Linked DNA regions of Homo sapiens: region 1 is linked to region 2. The links come from fine-mapping of genetic effects on gene expression. A gene starts in region 2. The other region holds a variant in brackets. All regions are shown on one strand. Distances are from middle to middle. Region 1 has its middle 40 kb from the start of PLB1. Region 2 holds the start of FOSL2 (FOS like 2, AP-1 transcription factor subunit).

Evidence for each region.
Region 1: its variant is fine-mapped to the expression of FOSL2 in whole blood (INTERVAL, PIP above 0.99).

Annotation. Positions count from the first base shown.
Region 1 is chr2:28,454,273-28,457,171 of GRCh38, reverse strand. No RefSeq gene overlaps it. Among named protein-coding and RNA genes, the nearest start is that of PLB1, 40 kb to the left of the region's middle. The variant A/G (reference allele first, on the strand shown) is at 1,629.
Region 2 is chr2:28,391,155-28,394,053 of GRCh38, reverse strand. It overlaps FOSL2 (FOS like 2, AP-1 transcription factor subunit), which reads right to left and starts at 1,196. Exons shown (of 4, transcript NM_005253.4): 1 at 232-1,196. The coding sequence starts at 333. The region is part of intron 1 of FOSL2-AS1 (FOSL2 antisense RNA 1); the gene reads left to right. RefSeq lists enhancers at 1-79, 235-1,166 and silencers at 197-373, 860-1,979.

The DNA.
Region 1 (2,899 bases), 63 kb before region 2:
CAATCATGGCGGAAGGCGAACGGTACTACTTACATGGCGGCAGCAAGAAAAAAATGACGCAGAAGCGAAAGCAGAAACTCCCTATTTAAAAAAAATCAGATCTCATGAGACTTACTACCATAAGGAAAGTATGAGAGAAAGCGCCCCCATGATTCAATGATCTCCCACCGGGTCCCTCCCACAACACGTGGGAGTTACAGGCGTATCATTCAAGATGAGATTTGGGTGGGGACACAGAGCCAAACCATATCAAGCCCCTACATCCAGAAAATGCAAATTTCATTCAACGCTAAAAAGAAATGTGCTGCCAAGCCATGAAAAGACATGGAGAAAACTTAAATGTATATTATTAAGTGGAAGAAGCCAGTATGAACAGGGTGCATACTGTATGATTCCAACTATATGACACTCTGGGAAAGGCAAGACTACGGAGACAGCAAAAAGACCAGTGGGTGCCAGGGGTTGTGGGGAGGGAGGGATGAACAGGCGGAGCACAGAGGATTTTTAGGGCCGTGAAACTACTCTAAGATGCTGTGACAGTGGATAAAGTCATCACACTTCGGTTAGAACTCATAGGACATCAACACCAAGAGTGAACCCCAATGTAAATATAGACTTTGGGTGATGATGCATCCATGTGGGTTCTTGATTTAATGAATGTACTACACATGTAGGGGCAGGGGTATATGGGGACTCTCTATACTTTGTTTTCAAATTTGCTATGAACCTAAAAAATAAAGTCTATTAGAAAACAAAACAAAAGGATCCCCAGATGCCCTGAGCTCTGTTTTACAAGGAGGGCCACCTGGCTCCTCAGGCCACAGCTCAGAAACCCCTGCTCTCCCTAGGAGGACTCACAGCCACATTTTCTCCTTTGCCTTTTAAGTGAGCTGTAGGGAATCCTTTGAGTCTCTTATCTGGGTCACCATTTAGGATAACTTCCACCGGAAGTGTCCTCTGCTTGGTTCCTTGACTTCAGTGTCACCTCCCCGGAGGCCTTCCCCAACTACCCCATTCCTAAGTCACTGTCCCTCCCATTATCTTGTATGATTTTCCGCCTAGCACTCATCATGTCTGAAATGAGCTCACCTGTTTACATATTTATTTTAAGTCACCCCTTTAGAGAATGCAAGCTCCACTAAGGCACTGACTGTGCCCCAGTGCCCAAAGCAGTGGCTGGCACAAAATAGGGGCTCAGCAAATATTTGTTGACTAAGTTATTTTGTTACTGAGCAGCAGCATAACCTAGGGCAAGGCAGTTAAACTTTTCTGGGCCCCAATTTCCTCATCTGTAAAATGGGCAACTACTCTTAATGATTGTGCTCCCTTTTCACGACAATGCTCTGAGTGTTGTCTCAACATGACCTTGTTTTGCCACGAAAGGACTTCTGCAGTGAAACAGGAGAGGTCCCCGATCCCCCTCAGGATGTGCCGCTTGCCTTTTCGGTCACCCCTGCTGCTCAAATCCCTCTCAGGAGGTGGAGCATGCAGATGGGAAGGTGCAGAGGCCAGGGTGAGCCATTTGGGCTCTGGCCCTACTGTAGTGTCTAAAGGTGGGTGCCTGCAACCCCAGTGTTACAAAGCTCTTTCAGCTTTGCTGTCCGCAGACAGCATGTGTTAACCAGCTC[A/G]ATGGACCCTCTGCCTTTTCGCAAGGGCAGAGGGCCAGTGTGACAGCTCTCTGTATCACAAGCTCTTATCCAGCATCCCGGAAAAACTGGGTCACACATGGGCTTGAAGGATGAATGCGAGGTTTTATTGAATGGTAGAGGTAGCTTTCAGTGGGACGGATGAGGAGCCAGAAGGGGGGTATGGAGTAGGAAGGTGATCTTCCCCTGGAGTCAGGAGCCCAGCAGCCGGACTCCTCTCTGACCGTCCCCAGTCAAACTCCTCTCCATGTTCAGATGTTCCTCCTCCTCTCTCTTTCTCTACTGCATCGTTCCACTGTCCGTCTGCTGGTCTGCTGGCTTGCTCGTCTGTTTCTGAAGCCTGGGGTTCAGGGTTTATATGGGTGCAGGATAGGGGGTGTGGCAGGCCAAAAGGCAACTTTTTCCGCTCAAAAACAGGAATGCCTGTCCTCATTTAGGGCCGTGGGTCTTCAGGCTTGAGGGTGGGGCCTTTGCCAGGAGCCACCCTCTTCTACCCAGTATTTCCCTGTCTCCTGTCCGTATCACCAGGCCATCTGGATGAGTACTTATGGAGAGAGTTCCTAGCAGCTTAGGATGTTGCTTCACCTTGCAGACTTGAGTTTGCAGATGCCAGAGAGAGGTTGGAATGTGTGCTAAGTAGATTGGGGTATGTGAAAGTCTCTCCCCTAGAAGGTCAGCCGTAAGGAGGCAGGGATCTTGTGTTTTATTGATTTTTATGGCCCAAGAGTCTAGAACAGTGCCTGGCACCAAGGAGGCTCAACGAATAGTTATGAAATGAGCACAGGAGGAATGCTGGACACGTCATTGACAGTCAGAACATGAACTTCCATTCTTGGGTGAGTGTCGTGTGGTATGGAAACAGCAATAATAATGCCTTCCATTAGTGGAGCCCTCTGTAAGGTGTTTACACACACATCATCTCATTTGATCCTCATGACAACCCCATGAGATAAGTACCATTAAGTGTTATTATCCCCAATTTACAGATGAGATAACTGCGGCTCAAAGAGTTCAACCTGCCTGAGGCCACATAGCTGGTAAATGGCAGAGCCTGATCTTGAACCCAGGATTTTCTCGCCCTAGACCCAATGCTCTTATCTGCCTGTGTGTTGCTGGTCATGCAAAGCTCTGAGTGTGAGCAGCAGCTGGAAGCCTCACATGAGAGCCAAGGCCCTGAGGAGAGCCACCGTGGAGCAGACAGAAGAGCTACCTGTGACTGAGCCCAGGCCTGCTGTGCACACGGAGGCTGCCAG
Region 2 (2,899 bases):
TAAAATATAACGTGAGAGGAAAAGGGCATGTTGTCTCTTCAAGCCCACTCTCCAATCCCCTAGTTTAAAAGGGGGTGGGGGGGAAGGGGAGGACGAAAATCCAGAACTTACAACGGTGGCCCGTAGGTATTTTCTCGCCAAGAAAAAGAAAAGAAAGCAAAAGAGGCAGTGGCGGCGAGAAGAGGGCAGGGGTCCGCCCGCGCCGCCAGGTGCACCGGGGCCCGCACCTACCTGCTGGCCGCCGCCGCCGCTGGAGTAGGACTCGGCGTGCGCAGGAGAGCCGCTGCTGCCCCGGGACGAGGTGTCAAAGTTCCCGGGATAATCCTGGTACATGATCCGCGGTGGGGGCCGGAGAGGAAACAGGGTGTTTTTCTTCCCCCGCCCTCGCCGCGGCCGCGCACCGGCTGCTGCGCGCTCGTTCGTCCGCCGGCCGCGCCGCGGGCTCTGGGCTTCGCTCCTGGGTTTCTCCCCCACCGCGGAGGGCGAGGACAGGGAGGCGGCGACACCTCAGGAACAGCGTCCCCCGAGCGTCCCTTACAGCACTTCTTTCCGGCTCTGCGAGCGCCGCGGGACCAGTTGTCCACCCGATCCCTCCCTCTAAAAAGTCGGCGCGTCTCTCGGTCCCTCCCCTGCGCGCGCCCTCCCGCCCCCGCGCGCAGCCGGAGCTCAGCGGGGACCCACGGCCCAATCAAAAATTGGAAATTAAAAAAAAGATTAGGAGCCCAGCGAGCCTGGCCTGCCAGCCCTGGGGACCCCCGATTTCAGACAGGGCCAAAAAGGCGGAAAGAAAAGCTGTCCGCTGGGAGAAACTTCTGTTTCTTCCTTTTAGAAAAGGAGCCGGAGAATAAACTTCCCGTGGCCGACTCGCCGCCCGAGTTTCGGGGCGGCTCGGATACTTGACTAGGAGAAGGCGGCGTGCGCCCGTCCCGCGGCCCCGAGCGCGCCAGGGGGACAGCGGCTCGTGGGGCTCAAGTAGAGCTGGCGCTGAGAGGGACGCGGCCCCGCTCCCCGCTCCGGCGCCCAGACCCGCACCCCTTCCCCGGAGCCCGCTCCCGGACGGGCCCGCCTCGCCCGGCCGCGCCTCTCCCTCTCTCTCTCTCTCTCTCTCCCTCTTTCTGTCCCCGCCGAGCGCCGCTCGTTCGCTCGCTCGCTGGTTCGCTCGGAGCCCTAGCGCTCTGCCCGAGATGAGTCACTACAATGGCACGAGTTCAACTCACACTCTTTATTCTCCAGCCCTGTACCATGTGGATTCACTCACGTCAACCCCAGACTCCACCTTGCAGGGAGGAGCGCACGAGGAGGCGGGGGGAGGAGGCCGCGGAGGAGGAAGAGGCGCGGGAGGGGAGGAGGCGGGCGCAGCTCTCCCCTCCCAGCCCCGGCTCCCGGCCGCGCTGACGCCAACCGCGCACCCCGCGCGAGGAAGCCAGGCGGTGGCACGGGCGGGAGCGGGCGCCACGCACGGTTCGGAGGCGCCGAGGCAGCCCCGGCCCTCCCCAGTCCCCCGCTCACCCCCCGGGCCCAGCGCCCTTGGTCTGTTCCATTGGCGCACGTTGCCAAAGATGGTCATTTGCGTTAGAGGACGCGAGTGCGGGTTTCCTCGCTTTCGGGTGACGTGGAGGGAGAGGGATTCCCTCGCCCGCTCCCGAGTGCGCTGCGGCCTCTCCCCCGCCCTGGGAAGGGGCTCGGGGCGGGGCCCCGAGAGCGGCCGCGCGGGTCTCGCCTCCGGATTTTAGAAAATAATCACAGCCCTGACGGCGAGACGGGCGGTTCGGTGCGGCGCCACCGGGAGGCCGGGAGCCGGGCGCGCAGAGCCGCTCGCAGGGAGGGCGCGGCTGCGCGCGGTCGTAGGCGCCCTCCGCGGCGCCGCCGAGTGCAGCGGGCGCCCCGGGCGCGCAGGGTGCCCGCGCCGCCCTGCGGCCGGGTGTTGGCGGGGCACGGCGCCGGGCGGGGCTGGCCTGCCTATTTTTCCCTCCGTGGCGGTCTGCCTACCGGTTCCCTTTTTGTTTTTTGTTTTTCATGTTTTCGGTCCTACAGTTAATTCGTTAGGAGTAGCCTTGAAGATGAAATTAACCAGTCAAGACATTCCGGCCGCCCTATACGCCGGGCAATTAGGACGCATCTAATAAGAGTAATCGGGCGTTTATAAGCAAACTCCAGACTGTTACGAATTAAAAAAAAAAAAAAAAAGCCAGCGAGAGGGTGTGCCCCAACGTTGTCGTCTTCAGCTGTTTTGGAGCGAAGTTCAGGGCGCGGGTTGCCGGACATTTGGGTCCTCCTCCCTCGCTGGGCGGGGCTGGGAGGGGCGCGGCGCAGGGTACAGAGCACAGACCTTAGAGCAGGAACGCCCGGCTACGCTATTTACGAGCTGTGAGATCTTGGACGAATTCCTTAACCTCTCTGGGCCTCAGTTTCCTCCTATAAAGTGAAGGAGTTTGGAGACATGACCTTAGGCCCTTCTCTGCTCTGGAGCTCCAATCCTTCCGCTGAGATGATGGTGTGTGTGAATGGAGAAGTACTGTAGCGGAAGTCAGGGAACTTAGGTTTTGGTCCAGGGTCTGTGTTAGCCTCAGTTTACCCAATTCTTAAGTAGCGCCAGCCATCTGTACCCCACAGGGTCCTTATGAGGACCCAATGTTAAGAGGTGTTGAGAGTCCATTGCTGACAACTCGCTGTGCACCGTCACACAACTTCTGTCCTCAGTTTCCTTATCTGCAAAGTGGGGGTGTTGGTAGCAGAGAAAAATAGAGCCGGGAACGCGAAGCTTTCCTGGGGCTCTATATAAAGCGCTGGCATTTCCGGGACGGCTGGCGGCATCTGGCCGCCCCAAGGGCCCCAAGATACGGTAATCCCAAACAATACTCGGGGTCATTGTTTACAGCTATAAAACACATTCTGTCCT